Linked DNA regions of Homo sapiens: all the other regions are linked to region 1. Evidence: fine-mapped expression QTL. Tissue or cell type: thyroid. Region 1 holds a variant in brackets; each other region holds the start of a gene. All regions are shown on one strand. Distances are between the middles of the regions.

What was found. PIP is the estimated chance that this variant, and not a neighbour inherited with it, causes the effect.
Region 2: it holds the start of PDCD7, and the variant in region 1 is fine-mapped to the expression of PDCD7 in thyroid (GTEx, PIP 0.95).
Region 3: UBAP1L starts here. The variant in region 1 is fine-mapped to the expression of UBAP1L in thyroid (GTEx, PIP above 0.99). The same link has a PIP of 0.9 or more in whole blood.

Annotation. Positions count from the first base shown.
Region 1 is chr15:64,911,737-64,919,736 of GRCh38, forward strand. ANKDD1A (ankyrin repeat and death domain containing 1A) reads left to right here and starts at 166. Exons shown (of 15, transcript NM_182703.6): 1 at 166-228; 2 at 4,061-4,164; 3 at 5,650-5,778. The coding sequence starts at 195. RefSeq lists a silencer at 12-191 and enhancers at 378-921, 3,629-4,129. The variant C/T (reference allele first, on the strand shown) is at 3,142.
Region 2 is chr15:65,129,720-65,137,849 of GRCh38, forward strand. It overlaps PDCD7 (programmed cell death 7), which reads right to left and starts at 4,089. Exons shown (of 5, transcript NM_005707.2): 1 at 3,193-4,089. The coding sequence starts at 4,062. RefSeq lists silencers at 3,315-3,714, 3,775-3,984 and an enhancer at 4,275-4,374.
Region 3 is chr15:65,111,146-65,119,275 of GRCh38, forward strand. UBAP1L (ubiquitin associated protein 1 like) reads right to left here and starts at 4,055. Exons shown (of 6, transcript NM_001163692.2): 1 at 4,005-4,055. It overlaps PDCD7 (programmed cell death 7), which reads right to left. Exons shown (of 5, transcript NM_005707.2): 5 at 6,234-7,695. The coding sequence ends at 7,572.

The sequences.
Region 1 (8,000 bases):
GGTTAAGAGAGCAGGAGGAGGGACCTGCGTCCTGGTCCGGGACTGGGGTGGCCGGGGCAGCTGCGCTCCTAGCAGGCGGGGCGTGGAGTCTGGAGGAGCGACCGCCCCGTCCTCTCGGCTCCCCGGGCCCCGCCCCGGCGGACGCGCGCCTCGCGCCCGGGCACCAGCGCGCGCAGGGGCTGCGGAGCGGCAGGATGCAGGAGGAGCTGGCGTGGGAGACCGACGGCCGTGAGTCTGCCTGGAGGAGGGAGGGGGGCGGGCCGAGGCCGAGAGGACCCCCGCATCCGTTTGGGGAGTGCCAGGGGTGAGGTTGGCGCCCTCCGAACGGCCACCTCCGTGTGGGGCGTCTGTGTGGCTCCGAGCGGAATGGTTACCGGTCCGCGCACTGGGCCGAGGGGACCTTGCCAGTGCGTCTGGGACTCGGGGACCACACCCGCCAGGTGAGCGGGGAGCAGCGGCTGAGAGGTTAGCTACAAATAATAAAGGTAATAGCGATCCTTGACTGCGTGCTGTACTTTGTGTGCCAGGCCTTGACCCAGGAGAGGCACGTCATTTGATCTTCGCTGCGGCCATATGGGTAGGACATTATGTTATCTTCATTTCGCAGATGAGAAACTGAGGCACAGGGTGTTCAAATGAGTTGTTCAAGGTCACACAGCCATTGAGTGGTAGAAGTGCTGAAGGGCCCAGCTCACCCGGAATGCTGGGGCTGGATAGCGAGTGGAGACCGCATCAGATGGGGCACGCACTCAGAGGAGAGGAGCCTGACTGGCCACAGGTGGAATGAGGGCACCTCCGAACCTCCCTCAAGGAGTGCGCCCAGTGCCAGGGCCTCTAGGCCGGGCAGCAGCGTCTGTGTGGGCATCAGCTGGCCTGGGGCAGCTTTGGCTGCACCGTCTGGGAGAGGGGAGAGAAAGATTGTGTCGGTGTCTGCACTGTGAGTCCTTGATCCTGCAGCCCTGGCTGAATCCTGACAGCTGAATCCCGGGGCTTTCCCTCAAAAGCGCATAGTGCAGCTCACTGGATTCCTTTGAGACCTATAGTGTCCAAAATGCTGGCACACTGCATCTACTCAGCTGAGGGATGTGTTGGGGGTGGGAATGCTCAATCAAGATTAGGTACATGGTTCTGCCTGGGGCGGAGGATCACTTGAGTGGGCCTGCGAAGAATGTGTACCAATGGAGCATTGGGGTGTGTGGCAGAGAATTCTGGACAAAGACCCAGCATGGGCAAAGGCTCAGGTAGCTCAGTGGGTATTGGATGTGGCCAGAAAGAGGGTGCCGGATGGGAGGTGGATGGAAGAGATGAGACTGGACTTGATTTCATTCTAACTTAACCTTCTCTGGCCTGACCCTATGCAGTGTCTGCTGGCTTCCCATTGGAACTCCTGGCTGTTTGCCAATACAAACCAGGCCAATCCCCCTAAGCTGCACATAAGATAGAGGGTGCCAGACAGGAAGGGACCTATACAGATCTCTTTCTTCACCCTCCCCCAGTTTTACAATGGAAGAAACAGACCTACAAGGGGGATGTGACTAGCCCAGGATCCTGCTGCTGGAAAGTGGCAGGGAAGGTACTAGAACCCAGGCCTCTGTAAGCTCACATCTGAAGTGGCAGCTCTCTTTGGCTACCAGAATTTGACCCTTTGCCTTGGAGGAATAATAGTGATGATGATGGTGGTGGTGGTGGCGGTGTGGTCATTATGTGCCAGACACTGTGCCAGGGGGTTTTCATATCTCATTTCTAATCATGATATTAACCTTGTAGGGAAGCTCGCACTCCTGTTTTGCAGATGAGGAAACTGCCTAACACAGCTAGGAAGTGGTTAAGCCAGAGTTGAACCCAGGACTGTGTGATTGCCCCCCAGGGTAGCAACTCTGAGATCCACAGGTTGTATCCATGAGGCCCCAGAAAGCTCAAGATCCTCTTTCTCATCTGGAGAAGACTGTGTGGAATTTATCTAGAAAAACAAACTGCATGGCAGGCCTGTCTCTCACCTCAGTGCATCTTAGCCTTCCCTACCAAGACACTCGTCACCTGTCCCTGGATACACAAAGGGGCTGGGTTCAGACATTCATACTGGACCAAACATGCAGGCTATGGGGTCACTTGCCCTGCAGTGACTATGGAAAGGGCCAGCAAATATTTGTCTCTGTGCTAGTATGTGTGAGCACTTTGGGAGAGGGGACAGGCATCTATTCGTCTGGGGATTGTTGGTGTCACTCATACAAGCAGAGATTTTTTTGTTTCTGTTTTCTTTTTTTTTTTTTGAGATGGAGTCTCGCTCTGTCACTAGGCTGGAGTGCACTGGCATGATCTCGGCTCACTGCAACCTCCAGCTCCCAGGTTGAAGCAATTCTCCTGCCTCAGCCTTCCGAGTAGCTGGGACTACAGGTGTGTGCCACCATGCCCAATTAATTTTTGTATCTTTAGTAGAGACGGGGTTTCACCATGTTGGCGAGGATGGTCTTGATCTCCTGACCTCGTGATCCATCCACCTCGGCCTCCCAAAGAGCTGGGATTACAGGTGTGAGCCACTGCACCCAGCCTGTTTTTGTTTTCTTTTTAGAGACAGGGTCTCACTCTGTTGCCCAGGCTGGAGTGCAGAGGTGCAATTATAGCTCATTGGCAGCCTCAAACTCCTGGGCTCAAGCAAGCCTCTTGCCTTAGCTTCTTGAGTAGCCGGGACTACAGGCATGTGCCACCACACCTGGCTAATTTTTAAAAAAACTTTTTTGTAGAGATGGAGGTTTTGCTTTTTAGCCCAGGCTGGTCTTGAACTCCTGGCTTCAAGCCATCCTCCTGCCTTGGCCTCCCAAAGTGCTGGGATTGCACGCATGAGCCACCATGCCTGGCTCAAAAGCAGAGTTTTGTGGGTTCCTCCTGTGCCCACCTTTGGGCCTGCTGTGAGCTGTGGGTGGATCAGGAAGGGTCAAGTGTGGCCAGGGCCTCCAAAATACTTGAAGTCTAGCCATGGAGACTAGACATCCTCACAATCAAGAGCCGTCAGGATGATGGCAGCATGGGGCTCCGGTGGGGATCATCTGGACCTGTGTCCTCCTGGCTCAGAGACTAATGCAGTCTGACCCTGAGCCCACAGGTGTGCGTGACAGGGGTTGGCAGGGGGAGCTCTGAGGTTCC[C/T]TTTAATCTGAGACTCTGTGCTAAAGGTGCAGCGATGGGGGTGAGAGGAGCACAGAGAAGAGAGACCACAGAGAAGGAAAATCAGGGTAGCCTCAGCGTGGGCAGGTGGAAGCTGGTTAGGATTTGGGCAAGAGTGATTGGAAGAGGCTGGGCGCTGTGGCTCACGCCCGTAATCCCAGCACTTTGGGAGGCCGAGGCAGGCAGATCACTTGAGGTCAGGAGTTGGGGACCAGCCTGGCCAACCTGGTGAAACCCTGTCTCTACCAAATATACAAAAATTAACCAGGTGTGGTGACACACACTTGTAATCCCAGCTACCGAGGAGGCTGAGGTGGGAGAATCGCTTGAACCTGGGAGGCAGAGGTTGCAGTGAGACAAGATCACGCCACTGCACTCCAGCCTGGGCAACAGAGGGGTTGGAAGAAGGGGTGGAGGAACAAGGAGACGGAATGTGCAGGAGTGGGGTAAACATGCCTCTGGCCTCACCCGGCGCTGGCACGCAGTAGGTGGCTCAGTAAATCCTGGCTGTGTAGACTGAGCCGTGGAAAAGATGGTTACTGACTCCAGAGGGAGTTAATTTCATTTCCTTCCCCAAGAGCAGCTCTTGGGAGGGTACATGAAACTTGGATAATGGGGCACACATTTAGGCTGCTGAAAATGGCTTCGCCCTGCTCTTCCATCTTCAGGGTTTCACCACGTCCTGGTTGCGTGGCTGTGGGGTGAGTTAATGAGGAAGAGCAGCCTGTCTGGGGAGGACCCTGACCTTGAGAGGGAGGAGGGCTGTGCCGCTCTGCCCCTGTTCCTAGCTGAAAGACCCCTGCTCCAGAAATGTTCAGGAGTGGAAATGGGTTGTTTACCTCTCCTGTCTGCAGTGTGGGGCATCCTCCCCCTCATCCTGCACCCCATTTTCTCCCCACAGTGCTTCCTCTGGAGAGGCAGCTCCACGAGGCCGCCCGCCAGAACAATGTCGGCAGGATGCAGGAGCTGATTGGGAGGAGGGTTAACACCAGGGCCAGAAACCACGTGCGTAATGAGCTTCTCTGAATCCAGGCACCTGGGATAGTGTCACGATAATGCCAGTACACAGGGGGAATAGTTTATCTGAGCTAGAGGCAGGCACATTTGCATGTGTAAACTTGGAGGGAGGCTCGGGCTCTGTCCTCATGGCCTGCATTGTCTCGAGGAATCTGAGGCTTAGAGTGGTTGGGCCCCCACCCAAGGTCAGGACCAGGATGTCAAGCCAGGCTTGGGCAATTCCAGAGGTCAAACTCTTAACTTCTGGGACCCATCTGAGAGGTTAGAGCCAGGAGGGCCAGGGTCAAAGGTCAGCAGCCAGAAGCTGGCAGATGGGCAAAAGAGGAGGACAGACATCACACAAAGCATCTCACAAACAATTCATTCCCTCTGTGATAAGTTGTCGTAAGAGCGTGTGCAGGAGGGTCGGCTTTTTTTCTTTTTTTTTTTTTTTGAGACAGGACCTCATATCACCCAGGCTGGAGTGCAGTGGAGCAATCACAGCTCACTGTAGCCTTGACCTTCCTGGGCTCAGTTGATCCTCCCATCTCAACCTCCTGAGTAGCTGAGACTACAGGCGTGTGCCACCATGCCAAGCTAATTTTTGTATTTCTTCTAGAGATAGGGGTCTTGCTATGTTGCCCAGGCTGGTCTCAAACTCCTGGACTCAAGCTGTCCTCCCACCTCAGCCTCCCGAAGTGCTGGGATTACAGGCATGGGCCACCTCACCCTGCCAGAAGTGGCATTTTTGAGGAGCCAAGTGAAGGACAATATTTCAGGCAGAGGGAATAGTATGGGCAGAAGCCCTGAGGTAGGAAGGAGCAGCTGGGCTCCAGAGAGGGGATGTGGCTTGCCTGAGACCACAGAGAAAACTAGTGCTTCCTTTCATTGTCCCCTCATAAGCTGAGAACTACAGAGGGGAGAAGTGGGCACAGGGGCCACAGGCCAGCTTCCCTCAGGCCTATTTGGATAACGTTATGAACTGCCAAGGTGGTCTGAGAATGAGGTGGTGGGTCAGGTCCCTTCAGCCCCATTCTGAGAGAAGGAAGGGGACAGAACCCAGGCACTCCAGTGCCTCTCAGGGACTTGGAGGATAATCCTTGGCCACATGGGGCTTTCCAGCAGGGGGAACAGCAGGAAAAGGCCTAGAGGTGGGAAGCTGCTTGGTATTTCTGAGAAGCAGTGGTGGGCAGTGCCAGACCATGCAGCGCCTCATCATCCCCAAGGTTAGGAGTTTATCCTGAGAGCCATGAGAAACTGTGAAGAGTTTTAGATGGGGACAGATGGGTCCAGTCATTTTACTATGTTGGCTCTGGCTGCCATGTAGGAGAGGAGCATGTGGCAGAATGGGGCTGGGTCCCCAGCTAGCTGGGGACCAGAGCCAGCAAAGACCCTTCCAGCCTGCAGACCAGCTGTCCTGGGGGAGGGTGTGGGAGGTGGTCCAGGCAGCCAGGTGGCAGCAGCACCTGACAAGTGTCATCTCCCTCCGGGCAGGTGGGCAGGGTGGCCCTGCACTGGGCTGCAGGTGCAGGGCACGAGCAGGCTGTGCGTCTGCTTCTGGAGCACGAGGCTGCTGTGGACGAGGAGGATGCGGTAGGGGCCCTCACAGAGGCACGTCTGTGTGTACGTGTCTGTCTGTCTGTCTGTCTCAGGGTGGTGGGGGGCACTGGAGATCTCTCTGGGTCTATGAGCCAGTTGCCGAGATTGCTGCTAATATGCAGACATTCAGGTGCAGAGTGGTGGGGAGTCAGAGGCTTCAGGCGCAGGGACACTGCACTGATTCTGTTTTACTCCTGTACAGCAATGAAGAGCTCTCCACTTTCAAGGGTCTTTCAGTTCTCAGAGAGCCTTTTCAGTCCCTCATGATACCATGCGAACAGAGAGAGGGCTGTAGAACAGATAATTGGGTGGATTGATAGAGGCCTGATTAGCAAAAGCACCAGGAGGAAAGTCTCTCATGATATGCCACAGGGCTCTGCCCTGGCTAACACTTCAATCAAAGTCTTGGATAAAGACTAATAATAGTCTTAGTTAACCAATTGGCAGGCAGCGTGTTGCTGAGAGAGAGCACTGATGAGTAACGGGGTCTGTAAAATTATCTCTACAGGTTTGGGAAAAAGGCTGAATCTAATAATGACATTTGAAAGGGATACACTTATGGCTTTGTCTACATTTAAATTAAAAAAAAGCGCCTGGGCGCGATGGCTCATGCCTGTAATCTCAGCACTTTGGGAGGCCAAGTGGGTGGATCACTTGATCCCAGGAGTTTGGGACGAGCCTGGATGACACGGCGAAACTCCGTCTCTACCAAAAAATACAAAAATTAGTCAGTCTCATAACCTGGTGTCTAAATACATAAATAGATAAAAATTTTAAAATAAAAAATAAAACCATAAACTTCCCTGCAGCGACTTAGTTGTCCATGAAAACAATTTTCTTTGTTCCGGCTTCTCTCTGCTCCCAGGCCTCACTATGTGGGGGCTTGATTACTAGTTGGGGTTGAGGTGAGGCAGCAACCCTTACCTCCCCCATTCCCCAATCCTGTCTCCTCCCTGTACCTGCTTAGGCCTCCTTTAGGGATGCCTTTAGGAGCAGAATGTCTAGGATCCTTAGCCTGAGCTCCCTGGTGAAACACTAGAGCCTCTTGCATCAAGTCTTTATACCCACAGAGACCCCCACTATCACCACTGTGCTGTTATTTCTTCCTTCAGGGGTTTAGTGAGAAAAGAAGCTACGAGGGAGAACAGTAAGAGGGGGCCCTTTTAGAATCCCTCCTTGTTGGCCAGGTGCGGTGGCTCACACCAGTAATCCCAGCACTTTGGGAGGCCAAGGCAGGAGGATCACCTGAGGTCAGGAGTTCGAGACCAGCCTGGCCAACATTTCGAAACCCCGTCTCTACTAAAAATACAAAAATTAGCTGGGTGTGGTGGCACACACCTGTGATCCCAGCTGCTGGGGAGGCTGAGGCAGGAGAATCGCTGGAACCTGGGAGACGGAGGTTGCCATGAGCCAAGATTGTGGCACTGCACTCCAACCTGGGTGACAGAGCGAGACTCTGTCTCAAAAAAAAAAAAGAATCCTCTCTGTTTCTTTTGCAAATGGTAATAAGTAACCTTTTGAAAAATAAGACAGCCTGCTGGGCTTGCCTGCTGTAGTAATGGGGTTCGGGAGATACTGGAGAAGGGAAATCCTGTGGTTGGAGGAAAGTCTGTAGTGATATGCCGCAGGACTCTGGCCTGGACAGTTCCTAGGAACTATGTATGTGGGGAAAGCTGGTATAGGACTGTGATGTATCCCGGAGGTCCCCACTGTCAGGAGGCTCTGGCTCCCATGGCTCTCCCTCCCTCAGTCCTGAGCCTTCACCCTTTTTACTCCCAAGCGTCTGTGGACTCCTTCCTCTGGACTCTGCCCGTGCTTGTTCTTTCTCCTTCCTCCTGCAGCCAGCCCACAGTTGCTGATACTCTACCAGGTGCTGAGCTCTGAACCAGTGCCAGGTCTCCTGGCCTCTTCGGCTCTAGTTAAGGCCAGCTGTAGACCCTCATTTGTTTCTTTTGTTTTGTTTTATAATTTTTAATTTAAAAAATATGTCCCCATCTTGGATGATAGACCCTCATTTGAGGCTCTATGCGAGATCCAACACCTTCTCTAGGATTTCATGAGGAAGAACTTAAGTGCTTGTGGTCCCTGCTGGCTCTTGCTTCCAGCTTCTGGTCAGCTTTTGGCGTTCTCTTGAAATTTTGCAAATAGTCCTTTGACTCCACCCTGGTGTCATCCCAAACATGGTACCTCTCCCCGGTTTCCAGGGACTCCATTCACAGAAGGCTTGTGGTGTGGTTTTCCAAACT
Region 2 (8,130 bases), 220 kb after region 1:
AGTTCCTCAAGCCACTCCTCATAAGACTCTGTCACCAATATCCTCACCATGGAAGCTGGGCATAATGGCATGTGTCCCTAGCTATTCCTACTCAGGAGGCTAAGGCGAGAGGATCACTTTAAGACCAGGAGTTCAAACCTACAGGCTATGACAAACCCGCTGCACTCCAGCCTGGGCAACAGAGTGAAACTTTGTATTTTTTTTTTTTTTTTTTTTTTTTTTGAGACAGGGTCTCATTCTGTTGCCCAGGCTGGAGTGTAGTGGTGTGATCACAGCATCACCATGCCCAGTTAATTGTGTTTTTTGTAGAGACGAGGTTTCTCCATGTTGCCCAGGCTGGTCTGGAACTCCTGGGCTCAAGTAATCTGCCTGCCTCAGCCTCCCAAAATGCTGGGATTACAGGAGTGAGCCACTTCGCACCCGCCCCCAACCCTCTTTTTTTTTTTTTTTTTTTTTTTGAGATGGAGTCTCGCTGTTGTCCAGGCTGGAGGGCAATGGCGCGATCTCGGCTTACTGCAACCTCCGCCTCCTGGGTTCAAGCGATTCCCTGCTTCAGCCTCCCAATTAGCTGGGTTTACAGGCTCCTGCCACCATGCCCAGCTAATTTTTTGTATTTTTAGTAGGGACAGGGTTTCACCACGTTGGCCAGGCTGGTCCCGAACTCCTGACCTCAGGTGATCCGCCCGCCTTGGCCTCTCAAAGTGTTGGGATTACAGGCATGACCACGGCGCCCAGCCCCAACCCTGTCTCCTTAAAACAATAAAATAAATAAAATAAAAAGTTCACCATGGGTGGTGGAGAGAATCCTCTTGCCTAAAGTGCTCTCCCCCATCTGTCAAATAAGTGCCTGTAATTCCACCACTACAGCTACAGCCAACACCAAGCTGTTTCACTTCTCCATTTGGATTACTCTGTTTCCCTGGAACTGCACCTATTACCTTCACCTGGGTGACTTTTCCTTTAAGACTCAGCTTATAGCCAGGAGTGGTGGTGTGCACCTGTAATCCCAGCTACTCTGGAGGCTAAGGCAGGAGAATCGCTTGAACCTGGGAGGCAGAGGTTGCAGCGAGCCAAGACGGCATCACTGCACTTCAGTCCGGGCAACAGTGCGAGACTCTGTCTCAGAAAAAAAAAAAAAGACTCAGCTTACGTGTCATTGTATCATTTGGGAAGCATTCCCTCAGTAAATCAGATGTTCCTTCTTTGGGCTTTTACAGCACCTATAGTTGAATTCCTAACACACACCACGCTATACTGACATGATCTCCCACAGATCTCTAAGCCAGGGGTCAACAAACCCCAGGCCACGGATGGTAACCAGTCCATGGCCTGTTAGGAACCAGATCACACAGCAAAAGATGAGGCAGGCGAGCAAGTGAAGCTTCATCTCCATTTACAGCCACTCCCCCATTGCTTGCATTACCACCTGAGCTCCGCCTCCTGTCAGATCAGCAACAGCAGCATTACATTCTCATAGGAGCACAAAGAAGTGAACTGCGCATGGAAGGGATCTAGGTTGTGGGCTCCTTATGAGAATCTAAAGCCTGATGATTTGTCACTGTCTCCTATCACCCCCAGATGGGACTGTCTAGTTGCAGGAAAACAATCTCAGGGCTCTCACTGTTTCCACATTATGGTGAGTTGTATAATTATTTCATTATGTATTATAATGTAATAATAATAGAAATAATGAGGAAGAGGAAAGGGAACCCCAGAGGCAATCAAAGGTAATGAAAATGCCTTAGACGGCCAGGTGCAGTGGCTCACGCCTGTAATCCCAGCACTTTGGCAGGCTGAGGCGGGTGGATCACCTGAGGTCAGGAGTTCGAGACCAGTCTGACCAACATGGAGAAACCCTGTCTCTACTAAAAATACAAAATTAGCTGGGGTGTAGTGGTGCATGCCTGTAATCCCTGCTACTCGGGAGGCTGAGGCAGGAGAATCGCTTGAACCCGGGAGGTGGAGGTTGTGGTGAACCAAGATCATGCCATTGCACTCCAGCCTGGGCAACAAGAGCGAAACTCCATCTCAAAAAAAGAAAGAAAGAAAATGCCTTAGAAAACCATCTGAACAATTTCCAGTTTTACCCTGGCCCTGCTTAAAGAGTCTGAGATCAATACGCTTTGGAATTAGACAACTTGGGATCAAATATGGGAAACTGCCACAAACTCGTTGTGTGACTGTTGGCAAGTTAACCTCTCTATGCAACTTCCTAACCTGTAAAATTAGCATAATACTTCCTACTTCTCAAGGCTGTTATAAAGATTCAAAATCTGGTATATGTAATGACCTTAGCACACCTCTCTCTATATATACACAGATACATACATATATATACACACATACACATACATACATATATATACACATACATATATGTATGTGTATATATATGTATGTATGTGTATATATATATATATATATAGTAAATGCTCCGAAACACCATTGCTGAACCTGGGGATACATGGTTTAAAACTTGTAAACAAAAGAATCCTAGGGAAATCACTATTGCCCCATCAGCTAATTAGAGTATATATATTCCTTGAGGTAGGGTCCCCAAGTTCTCTATTTTTTTTTTTTTTGAGACGGAGTCTTGCTCTGTCGCCCAGGCTGGAATGCAGTGGTGCGATCTCGGCTCACTGCAACCTCCGCCTCCAGAGTAGCTGGGATTACAGGCGCCCGCCACCACGCATGGCTAATTTTTGTATTTTTAGTAGAGACGGGGTTTCACCATCTTGGCCAGGCTGGTCTTGAACTCCTGACCTCGTGATCCACCCGCCTCCGCCTCCCAAAGTGCTGGGATTACAGGCGTGGGCCACCGCGCCCGGCCTGTATTTTGTATTCTTAAAACCACCTAGGGCAGTACAAGACACAAGGAACTAGACACTTACTGGTTTTGAGAGTAAGTGGACAATGTTGGAGCAGGATAGGGGAGACCTGTCATTCGTGCAGTGCCACCGTGTAATCCTATACTTTGTGTTTACAGGATTTTACAGTGCACCTGGAACTTTTGTGTACCACACATCATTAACACAAAATTAACATGGTGGTATGAGCTGGGAAGGTTAGCTATCGCTTCATTTTGCGCGTAAAACAGAGGCTTAGCCCTGGGAAATGGAAGTTTAAAGCCTCCTGCTGCTCCAGGTTCCAACCACCACCACTCCTACCCCCATGAGCGGCCGCTGCTCTCACCCGCTTCTTCTCCTCCACCTCCTGCACACACTTCACCCTCCAGCGGTCAATCTCCTGCTCGCGTTCCACTGCCCGCGCGGCCTCTGCCTCCCGCTCGGCCTCGCGTTCCCGGGCCCTCTCGCGAAGCCGCAGCCGGCGGCGCCGGACCCTCTCCAGCCTCCTCCGCGCCTCGCCCACATAGGCAGCCTGGGTCAACGGCTGTAGCCGCTCGGCCAGTTCCGCGCGCAGCGGCGCGGTCTGGGAGTACAGCAGGACCCAGGCCGCGCCGTCGGCTTCGGCCTCGCGCAGGGCCTGGCTCAGGCCGCGCAGCCGCCGCACCAGGCGCAGAGCCCGGAGCAATCGCGCGCGCACTTCGCCAAGGCTGGGCCCGGCATGCGTGCGCTGGGGCACCGGACAGCCTGCCCGCCGCGGGGTCCCGAACACCGCCTCCAGCCACTGCCGGTCGCGCAGGCGTTGGAGGGCCGCATCCCCGAGCACGTCGGCCGGCGGCGGCGGCGCCTCAGGCCACCGCGGGCTCCAGGGCGGCCCCGGGCCGGGAGGCGGTGGCCGCGGCCGCTCGCCGGCGTCGGTCCCCGGGAAGGGCCGACACTGGGGCGGCGGAGGAGGCAGCGGCGGTGGTGGCACCGGGTAGAAGGCGCCAGCGCCGCCTCCGCCGCGGGAGGCCTCCGCGGAGGCTCGGGGCTGCAGAGCCAGCGGAGGCTGAAGGAAGGGGGCGGAGGCCCCCGGAAAAGGGCCGGGCCGCTGGGGGAGAGGCGGCGGGAAAGCCGGGGAGGGCAGCGGCGGTGGCGGACAGCCGAAAGGAGCAGGAGGCGGCGGCTGCGGGGGCGGTGGGCCTGGGCGACCCTGGCCGAAGAATGGTGGCAGGGCCATGTTCACGACGGAGATGCTTTGAGAAGTGACAGGAATCTGAGTGGCTCCTCATGAGAACCTTCCGACGGAAGTGACGTCGTTACGACGCGCGACCCCTGTAGACTCGTCCCTCCGGAAGGCTCAGTGCATAAGTGGGCAGTCGTTCAACCTTCTGTCGTTCAGTTCATAAATACCGTTCTTATTGAGCATCCTAGGTGCAGAGCTACCCACTCCGCATACAGTGAGACTGAGAGATACAGAGCTTCTCTTCGTGGAACTATCTGCCTAGTATAACACACTAATCAATTAATCATGGTGAGTATCTTCGAGAAGTTGGAGAAGGTTATCCTAAGAAACTGCGGCTGCAGCTGAGATCTGGAAGATAAATAGTTAAATAGAAAAAGAGAGGGAAGCACAGTGCAGATGAGAACATGTGCAAAGGCCCTAGTAAATAGGAGTGTGACCAACTACCCATTTTCTTAGAAAAATGAATTATTTTTACTTTTCTCCTTTCACCCCACCTCCTATTTAGCTCTTTAGGAATGCAATTATAGGGTGGGTGCTGTGGCTCACGTCTGTAATCCCAGCACTTTGGGAGGCCGAGGCAGGCGAGATCGGCCTGTAGTCCCAGCCATTGGGGAGGCTGAGGTGGGAGGATCACCTGAGCCCTGGGAGGTAAAGACTGCAATGAGCCACGATAACGCCACTGCACTCCACCCTGGGCGACAGAATGACACCTGTCAAAAAAAAAAATCCAATTAACCTTTACCTTCTCTCCACCAGACACTCTCTACACTGTAAGCTTATCTAATTATGTGTTCGCTTATTAGTTCCAAGGACCGAAGCTTAAACCAGGGACCTCTGGAACTTTCCCATACCAGGGGATTGCCTGGGGACAACTGTCAATTTACAACCTAGCTCCCCGCTACCCCCCACCCCCCCTCCGCCTTCGCCCCAGCCTCCATGGCGCCAACCAGATCACTGATGGATACATAGGAGCAAGTCCCATAGACCCAGCACCTCCTTGGTCCCTCCCCACCCCTTGCATGCCATCCAGGTCAACCAAGTCCCGTGCACCCCCCACTTTTTTTGAGACAGAGTCCCTCTGTCACCCAGGCTGGAGTGCAATGACGCACTCTCCACTCACTGCAACCACTGCATCCCAGGTTCCAGTTATTCTTGGTGCCTCAGCCTCCCTAGTCAGTTGCTGGGATTATAGACCCCTGCTGCCACGCCTGGCTAATTTTTGTGTTTTTAGTAGAGAGGGGGTTTCACAATGCTGGCTAGGCTGGTCGTAAACTCCTTACATCAGGTGATCCGTCCACCTTGGCCTCCCAAAGTGCTGGGGTTACAGGTGTGAGCCACCACACCTGGCCACTTTCTTTCTTTTTTTTTTTTTATGAGACAGAGTCTCCCTGTGTCGCCCAGGCTGGAGTGCAGTGGCGTGATCTTGGCTCATTGTAAGCTCTGCCTCCTGGGTTCATGCCATTCTTCTGCCTCAGCCTCCCGAGTAGCTGGGATTACAGGTGCCCACCACCATGCCTGGCTAATTTTTTTGTATTTTTAGTGGAGATGGGGTTTCACCATGTTAGCCAGGATGGTCTCGATCTCCTGACCTCATGATCCGCCTGCCTTGGATCATGTTGGGATTACAGGCGTGAGCCACCGTGCCCGTGGCAGTCACTTTCTTTTTACCATTCTCTTACTTGTTATTTGAATTTGCAAGCTGCAGGGAACTGGACCTGCCTTAGGTTACAGGACTATGTCTAGTGGGAAGCCTGATAGAATGCCAGTTTTGGCCTGTAATCCCAGCACTTTGGGAGGCCGAGGCGGGTGGATTGCCTGAGCTCAGGAGTTCAAGGCCAGCCTGGGCAATATGGTGAATTCCTGTCTCTACTAAAACACAAAAATTAGCCAGGTGTGGTGGTGCGTGCCCGTAATCCCAGCTACTGGGGAGGCTGAGGCAGGAGAATTGCTTTAACCCAGGACGTGGAGGTTGCAGTGAGCCGAGATCACACCACTGAACTCCAGTCTGGGAGACAGAGCGAGACCTTGTCTCCAAAAAAAAAAAAGAATGCGAGTTATGGATGGAGCTCTGAGAGGAGTCTGGTGATCCTGGTGAAGTGAAGTCCTAATGTCTGGGGTCTCATATCTTATGAACAATGGGAAACTATTTTGTTGTTGTTGTTGTTGTTTTGAGACCAAGTCTCACTCTTGTTGCCCAGGCTGGAGTGCAATGGCGCGATCTCGGCTAACCACAACCGCCACCTCCCAGGTTCAAGCAATTCTCCTGCCTCAGACTCCTGAGTAGCTGGGATTACAGGCACACACCACCATGCCCGACTAATTTTGTATTTTTAATAGAGACGTGGTTTCTCCCTGTTGAGGTTGGTCTCGAACTCCTGATCTCAGGTGATCTGCCTGCCTCAGCCTCCCAAAGTGCTGGGATTACAGGCGTGAGCCACTGTGACCAGTGGGAAACTATTGGTTTTAAACAAGAGGTAAAGAGAAGCCTGTGCCACCTGATTAGATTTTTAAAATTAAACTATTTTGAGACAATTGTAGATTCATATGGAATATGAGAAGTAGTAATACAGGGAGATTCTGTGTACCCTTTACCCAGTTTCCCCTAAGGGTAACATCTTGTAAAACTGTAGTACAGTATTGTCAGAGGCATTTGAACCAGAGTGACTCCATCTTGAGTGAGGGCTAGGAAAAGTGAAGCTGGGACTTGCTTGGCTGCATTCCCAGGAAGTTAGGTATTCCTAGCCTCTAGATGTTTATGGTTAAGGGAACAGACTAATAACATTTACTAAACAGACCCGTACTTAGGAGTGTCCTGAGATCCCGATATTTTGAGAATAGAAGCATTCCTAATTTTGCTTTAAAGATAATAATGTTGATTCTTGTAAAATATAGTAATTTAAAAAATTAATCCTTTATCACAAACCCTTGTGGCAGAGCACATCTCCCCATGATCTTTTTTTATCCTATATATAAGCAAGCATTCTACCTAGGGTGGACACGTTTCTCCTCTTACTTTCAGGAACGCCCTACTGTCTATGGAGTAGATATTCTTTCACCACTTTACTTTCTTAATAAACTTGCTTTTGCTTTGCACTGTGGACTTGCCCTGAAATCTTTCTTGCACAAGATCCAAGGACCCTCTGTATTAGTCTGTTTTCATGCTGCTAATAAAGACATACCTGAGACTGGGTAATTTATACAGGAAAAAGGTTTAATGGATTTACAGTTCCACATGGCTAGGGAGGCCTCACAATCATTTGGAATGCTGGGATTACAGGCGTGAGCCAGTGCACCCGGCCCCAGACCTCAATTCTTGACTTTTGCGCACCCGCAGGCTCAACACCATGTGGAAGCTGTGAAGGCTTGGGGCTTGCACCCTCTGAAGCCACAGCCCAAGCTGTACCTTGGCCCCTTTTAGTCACGACTGGAGTGGCTGGGACACAGGGCACCAAGTCCCTAGACTGCACACAGCAGCGGGACCCTGGGCCTGGGTCATGAAACCATTTTTTCCTCCTAGGCCTCTGGGCCTGTGTTGGGAGGGGCTGCCGCAAAGATCTCTGACATGCCCTGGAGACATTTTCCCTATTGTCTTGGAGATTAACATTCAACTCCTCGTTACTTATGCAAATTTCTGCAGCTGGCTTGAATTTCTCCTCCGAAAATGGGATTTTCTTTTCTATGGCATTGTCAGGCTGCACATTTTTTGAACTTTTATGTTCTATTTCCCTTTTAAAACTTGATGCCTTTAACAGCACCCAAGTCACTTATTGAATGCTTTGCTGCTTAAAAATTTCTTCTGCCAGATACCCTAAGTCATCTCTCCTAAGTTCAAAGTTCCACAAATCTCTAAGGCAGAAGCAAAATGCTGCCAGTCTCTTTGCTAAAACATAACAAGAGTCCCCCTTGCACCAGTTCCTAATGAGTTTCTCATCTCCATCTGAGACCACCTCAGCCTGGATTTCATTGTCCATATCATTATCAGCATTTTGGTCAAAGCCGTTCAACAAGTCTCTAGGGAGTTCCAAACTTTCCCACATTTTCCTGTCTTCTGAGCCCTCTAAA
Region 3 (8,130 bases), 200 kb after region 1:
TCCATACAGAATCAGGAAGGTCCCACTGTAACCAGTAAATTATCTGCCCCATCAGCCAGTTCTTACAGGGGACCTTTGAGGTACAAGGGTGTTATAGGAGACACAGGAAAGTTCAGCAAGTTTTGGCATTCTCAGATTTATTATTCACATTTTCAGGTATCATCTGAATTTTGAGCTATCTCCAAGGAAGGGACACAGTTCTATTGAGACTATCTGTCCACTTAGCAGGTATAGGGCACCCTTCTCTCCATCTTCCGCCCAGCATCTGCATCCTAATAGGTATTTTCTACTCAGCCCTACACTTGCTTCTAGGATACTGAGGATTTGGGGAACATATCTATTTTTTTCTTTTTTGAGACGGACTCTCGCTCTGTCTCCCAGGCTGGAGTGCAGTAGTGCAATCTTCTAGGCTCACGGCAACGTCTGCCTCCCAGGTTCAAGCGATTCTCCTGTCTCAGCCTCCTGAGTAGCTGGGATTACAGGCACCCACCACCACGCCTGGCTAATTTTTGTATCTGTAGTAGAGGTGGGGTTTCGCCATACTGGTCAGGCTGGTCTCGAACTCCTGATCTCAGGTGATCCACCCGACTTGACTTCCCAAAGTGCTGAGATTGCAGGTGTGAGCCACCATGCCCAGCCTATATCTCTTTTTTTTTTCTTTTTTAGGCAGAGTCTTGCTCTGTCACCCAGGTTGGAGTGCAGTGGCGTGATCTGGGCTCACTGCAAGCTCCGTCCCCCGGGTTCAAGCGGTTCTCCTGCCTCAGCCTCCTGAGTAGCTGGGACTACAGGCGCCTGCCACCACGCCTGGCCCTATATCTCTTAAGAATGGCAAGGGCTACAGTAAAGATATCGATATTGCCTAGTTAGAAAGTATTCTAAAATGAGGGTCACCTCACTAGGTACAACATGAGAGGTACAGATCATTATGTAATAATATTCTCCAAAGGAAGGGGAGTGGTCTAGTCCTTATGGGCATTGGAGAAGCTTCAGGAAGTAGATGGGACTTGGCCTTGACCCTGGAAGGTGAAAGAACAGCCTGTGAGCAAGAGAGCAGAGGAATCTGCAGGGTGGAGAGAAGTGACAAGTTGCTGGACTTAAGCAGATGGTCTGTGCTGGGAAGCAGTACGAAGTAAAATTGAAAGGGTAGACTGGGGTAGAGCTGGGGAGAACTATGAACTTCAGGCTGAGTGCTGACTCCATTCAGCAGGTAGTGGGCAAAGTGTGGAAGAGGCCTGAGGTGGTGGAATGGAGTAGGGATGTGGGAATGTTAGGAAAGCCAGGCTGTGCATGCTTGGACAAACTGTAAGCCAGGACCTCTCAAACACTAGCCCATGAGGTGGTGCCCATGTGCTTGGATCTGGGCATGGGGATGGGGAGTGGGATGGGTGAAGGTGGCACTGATTGATTTAAGTGGGGCCCAGGCAATGACATTAGTATTGTTTCCAAAGGTCTTCACTATACTCTCTAAATGACTTTATTCTTGCCCAGAGCTTCAATTACCTGCCAATGATTCACAAATTAAATTCTCCAGTTCTCTTCTGAGATCAAACTCATAAACACAACTGCCTACACAGTGTCTCAAGACTTCTCAAACTCAACGTATCAAAGTGAACTGATTTTTCCCTTCCCCAAACTGCTCCTCGCCCCCAGGGTTCCTTGTCTCAAGGAATGGTAACATTGAGCCAGGTGCACGAGTACTCATCTCTGATACTTTCCTCTCCTTTACCACCACCATCTCAAATTTCCTGTGAATTTTTATCTCCTAAATCTCTGGAATCCAGCCATTTCAGGCTAACTCCACTGCTTCCATGGGAATCCAAGCCCCCATTATCTCTCACCTGGACCACTCATCTCCATGTATCCTCACATGCTTTATTATTATAATTCTGTTCCACACACTGAGGCAAGAATGACCATTTCAAAACCAAAACTAAGCCACTCCTGGCTGGGCACGGTGGCTCATGCCTGTAATCCCAACACTTTGGGAGGCAGAGGTGGGAGGATTGCTGGAGCCCGTGAGTTAAAGACCAGCCTGGGTAACATAGCAAGACCCCTTCTTTAGAAAACAAAACGAAACAAAACTAAGGCACTCTCCTACTTAAAACTCTTCAATGGTTCCTGGCTGTTTTCAAAATAAAAATTAAACTTCTGAAGGCTTGCAGTGTCTGGCCCGTTTCCTCTCCTCCCATCTTACTCCAGTCATGCTAGCCTTCAACTGCCATGGTCTCTCAGTCCCCACAGAACCTTTGCATATCCTGTTCTGGATACTTGCTAAGTTCTTCCCTGTTGCTTCCCCACAATTAATTAAAAGCTGCTCAAATGCCAGGCACAATGGCTCACATCTGTAATCCCAGCACTTTGGGAGGCCAAGGTGGGCAAATCACTTGAGGTCAGGAGTTCGAGACCTGCCTGGCCAACATGGCAAAACCCCCTCTTTACTAAAAATACAAAAATTAGCCTGGTGTAGTGGCACACGCCTGTACTCACAGCTACTCAGGAGACTGAGACGAGAGAACTGCTTGAACCTGGGAGGCGAAGGTTGCAGTGAACCAAGATCACGCCACTGCACTCCAGCCTGGGCGACAAAGCGAGAGTCTGTCTCAAGAATAAAAAGAAAAGAAAAGAAAAGAAAAAGCTGTTCATTCTTCAGAGCTCAGCTGAAACATCACTTCCTCAAAAAAGCTTGCCCTGACTCTCAAACTTGGTCAGGTCTACCTAGCACAGTGGCCTTTACAAAGTTTTTTATTTTTTACTTTTTTGAGATGAAGTCTTGCTCTGTTGCCCAGGCTAGAGTGCAGTGGCTCGATCTCAGCTCACTGCAATCTCTGCCTCCCAGGTTCAATAGATTCTCCTGCCTCAGCCTCCCGAGTAGCTGGGATTACAAGCACCTGCCACCACGCCCGCTAATTTTTGTATTTTTAATAGAGATAGGGTTTCACCATCTTGGCCAGGCTGGTCTTGAACTCGTGACCTTGTGATCCACCTGCCTTGGGCTCGCAAAGTGCTGGGATTACAGGCATGAGCCACCGCGCCCAGCCTTTTTTTTTTTTTTTTAACTATGACCCATAGTATACTTTTATTTCCTAGCATACACATATGTAAACTGAATAATGATTCTTACCCTTACTATATGATACATATTTCCTATTATTTCAACTAAATGTGTCACAGAACGCTTTTGAAGAAAAATCCTAATTCATAATCTCAGAACCATGTCTTTCTTTCAAAGCACTCAGCATATTTTTTATGATTATTGGGTTAATATCTACCTTCCTCATTGCCTGTATTCTGTATGAGGTTAGGGAGTATTTGGCATTTTGCTTAGCTTTAATAGGCACTTAAACATTTGGAATGAAATATATAAATTGGCTGATAAGTACTTTTCCTTGTAGCACTTATCACAATTGTCTCTAATGACTCTGTTATAATCATTAAGCTTCTTCACTCTAAACTCCAGGAGGTCAGGAATCCTGTCTGTTCACCCCTTCTTACATCCCTAGCACCTAACCACAGTACCTGGAAAATGGTAAATAAAAAATCATTTCCCATAGAACATAATTCAAATTCTGGTATCCAGACTGTGGCCAGCATGAATTAACAAAGCTGAGGAAAGTGTCCACTGTTCTACACAGTTATGCACTCTAACACCACTTGCCTCAGAGACCTTAATCTTTGCTTTGGAGGCTATGAAAAACCAAATTTATTCCAAAAGGCAAATGAACTCTGCAATGGAAACATACTCTTCATGTGTGGCCAGATACAGGAAGCCAGGAACTACTATGTGGATTCACAAAAAGGTAAAGAGCTCATCATATGGAAATAGCTTATAGGTTCTAAGCATTACAAAAAATCTGGGACAAACAGGTGGCAAAAAACAAATTTAGTTGATAATGTCTCATTTAATCACTATTCCATAAATCACTACTATTTCAGAATGTTCACATTCCTTTCATATATTGCATATTATACTTATTTAAATGGAATAAGATATACTTTGTACTTACCTTGTAATTACCAGGAGAACTTCCCTGCAGACAAAGCGTGTATAAATGAATAGCTACAACAGATGGCATAAGCCTAAGCTTCTTGTTACAAATGTCACATGGGCATAGGAGCATGAATGGTTTTATAGAGTGATTAAGTTGGTTGGCTTGTAGCAGCAAATTCTTTGACATCATAAACTCAGCCACTTGGGCTAAATACCCTTAGTATTTAAGAACTAATCTCTTTCTCTCATAGCTTTCTAATCTCTGTATTTACCGAATTTATTAAAAACAAATGCTTTTGTACAGTTTTTCTTTTTAAAAGTATTCCAGTTAATAATTGAAGAATGACAGAATTAAACTATCACTATTTTTGAGTCCCCTCCCCATCAATGAATGAATCTGGGTCTTATCAGTGGCCGCTAACATCACAAAAAAAGCCAAGACATCAGTGCCTCCTGACTGGAAGTACACATTATGTCTGTGAAGTATTCCTGCCAGAAAATTCCAATCTGAATGTGATCAAGCCTCTAGATCAGCACTATCCAATTGAAACGTGATCCACATATGTAATTGCACATCTCAACTCAAATAGATCACATTTCAAGTGCTCAACAGCTGAATGTGGCTACTATATTGGACAGTACAGCTCTGTTTAACTACTAAATTATAGGACATACGAGAACAGAGGGACATGGCATCACAAGGATGCAAACAACAGTGTATGGAGTCTATTCAGATCCTAATTTGAACAAAACGTAAAACATTTACGAGAGGGCAATTTGAACAATGATTGGATATTTGTGATATTCAGGAGTTGTTACTCCTTTATTTAGATGTGATAATGGCCCTGTAGTTAGATTTTTTTTTTAATCACTTAAAGCTACATAATGAAATATTTACAGATGAAGTAATTTGATGCCTGAGATTTGCTTCAAAATAATCCAGGGTGAGTGGAGGATGTATAGATGAAACAAGATTGGCCATAAGCTGATAATGATTTGAAGCTGGATGATGGGTACATGGAAAAAAATCATTGTACTATTCTCTTTACTTTTGAATGTATTTGAAATTTTCCCCAAGTTAAAAAAAGAAAAAAAAAGACTGTGGGATAACATTACAATAACACTGCTCATATTCTTGAAAGTACAATTCATTAAAGATACTACCATGAGTCTCTCTAAACCTGAAAGAACCAGTGGCTACTGCCACCACCACTACACACAGGTAATAAACCAGGAAAATCTTACAAATAAAAACCGAACAAGAGTAATGCTCATGTTTTGTTTTGTTTTTTAATTTTCTTTGTTTTGAGACAGAGTCTCGCTCTATTGCCCAGGCTGGAGTGCAATGGTGTGATCTCAGCTCACTGCAACCTCCGCCTCCTGGCTTCAAGTGATTCTCCTGCCTCAGCCTCCCAAGTAGCTGGGATTACAGGCGCCTGCCACCATGCCTGACTAATTTTTGTATTTTTAGTATAGATGGGGTTTCACCATGTTGGCCAGGCAGGTCTTGAACTCCTGACCTCAAGTGATCCATCTACCTTGGTCTCCCAAAGTGCTGGGATTACAGGCGTGAGCCACCACACCCAGCCTGATCACTTTATTAAAACCTTGCAAGGGCCAAAGGAAAAAGGGATTTTTTTTTTCTCCATCTGTGGCTAAATGCCACCTTCTTGGGTTCTGCTGTCCGAGTTTTCCTGAGTCCCTGCAGCACATTCCCTGCCCTCACAGCAGATATCTTAGTGGCAAGGCTGTCCAGACACCAAACACACATCGTACAATTCACCTTATTTCTACTCTTCCTGCATCTCATCAGAGAGCAAATGGTGGAGATATCTAACAAAAAGGCACACAGGATTGTGGAGCTCTATGAGGGTAATCATATCAGATTTTAAGATTTATAAGCGTAGACATACATTTTGGAGACATGTGGCCCTCATTCCCTATCTGTTGACTCTATATAATGTATAAATTAATGCAAATTAAACAACAGAAAAGGGACAAAGCCATTAGTATCTTGCACCCAAAAGCTTCCAACTACAGTACGTAACATTATTTCCAAAATTGATGGTATCCTTACCAATCCAGACTTGGATTTTGCAGATAAAGTTTAGCATTTAAGATTCAAATTCCTGTAACAAATGCCTGCTTAATAAATTTGAATTTTTGAATGAAAATATGTTTCATCAATGTGAAAGTGTGTGTTAAGTGATTTGGAAGGCAACAAATTGGCAGCAAAGGCACAAACTAAAAAATAAAAATGATTTTTATTTAGTTTTTTGGAAATATAACAAAATAATTGGCAAAAACCAAACCAAAACAGAACCAAAAAAATGACATGTTATATGAGTGATCATCTCCAAGCACAACAGCATTTATTAATGAATATAAAAAATAAATTTTACTTTTTTTTTTTTTGAGACGGAGTCTTGCTCTGTCTCCCAGGCTGGAGTGCCGTGGCGCGATCTCGGCTCACTGCAAGCTCTGCCTCCTGGGTTTTACACCATTCTCCTGCCTCAGCCTCCCCAGTAGCTGGGACTACAGGTGTGCACCACCTACGCCCAGCTAATATTTTTTTGTATTTTTAGTAGAGACAGGGTTTCACCGTGTTAGCCAGGATGGCCTTGATCTCCTGACCTCGTGATCGGCCCGCCTCGGCCTCCCAAAGTGTTGGGATTACAGGCGTGAGCCACTGTGCCCGGCCAAATTTTACTATTTTTATTTGCTTTTTCCCCTAGATTTGACTACATGGATAGTTTTAGAAGCTTGAGTTCCTAAGATAATTCCATAGCTACACTGGCTCCTACAATGTGACTGAGTGAGGTTAGGGAAATATCCTTGGGGATTCTGAACAACTAGACCCTTAGAAACTTAAAAATAACAGGTGCTTTCATTAGGATCCTTCTAACATGGAAAAAATACAGCCATTGTCCATTAAAATACAATCCAATTTGGGTACTCTTCAGGTTTTCTAAGTTCTCCATCTGAATAATAAGACTAGGCCACCATCTTTTCTGGCAACCCAGCCTACAGCCACTGCCATCTTCCTAACTAGCAGCCTCCTAAGCTGCACTAAAACTGGGATTAACACAACTGAAGATAACATTTTTGACCTTTCTTCCTAGAAGTCAAAGGGCTCTTCAGGTAGGAAAGGTCAGGAGGTTTTGCATCAAGCTTGCCTTCACACTCACTATTAGTAGAAGGGCTGTGAAATCTACCCATCACACACCTGTATTCAGTGTTTGAGTGTACTTACCCATCAACACACAAGGAAGTTAGAGTAAATTAACAAGTCACTCTGGACCAAGCCCCTCAAAACAGAGGCAAATTTGGTGAACCAAGGTCATTCACTGCCTGTGGTAAAAACCTCAGTTCACCTAAGTCCTTTCCTGAAAAACCACATTAATCTGATTCAAGAGGCACCTCTGGCCAGCACAGAGCACAGAAGGAAAGCATAACTTCAGGGTAGGGGAATGCCACATGGAATTTAGAAGTTGCAGTTTAGTCTACAGCAAAAGATGGCACCATCGCTAATATTTACAGCTGGAAAGAGCGCTGGCTGGACCACACTCCTGGAGCATCTTTACTAATGCAGCTTAACAGCAGTTGCCCAGATGTCGTTGCTGGGGAGCGGGGGAAGGACCCATCCTTGGGGAACGAAGTTGCCTTTGGGATGATCGGATGGCACCAGGTACTGATCCCAATCATGCCTTAATAAGAACATTATAGAACAACTATTTATTTCTGTTTTATTCCAAATAAGATGTTCAGCAACTACATATTCTAAGACTTAGCTTTCAAATGACTGATATACTAATCTATTACAGAACTTGATTTCTAGGAATCAAGAAAATGACTATATTTCTTAAATGTACATATAAAAAGAGGAAAAACTCTGAAGAACTTAAACCTTATGGATAACCAAATAACAAATAAAGTCAATCCTCATTATTTACAGATTCTGTATTTGCATATGTGCCTACTAACACAGGGCAAGTCACAACCTGAGTTTTTTTCTTCACCTATAAAAATAGGGACATCAACTTCTCAAGGACTAATGAGGACTAAACAAGATGTATGCAGCATCCTTGAAACATGGAAACATTATAAACCCATAGTTTTTTTTAAGTTCCTTATGGAACTTA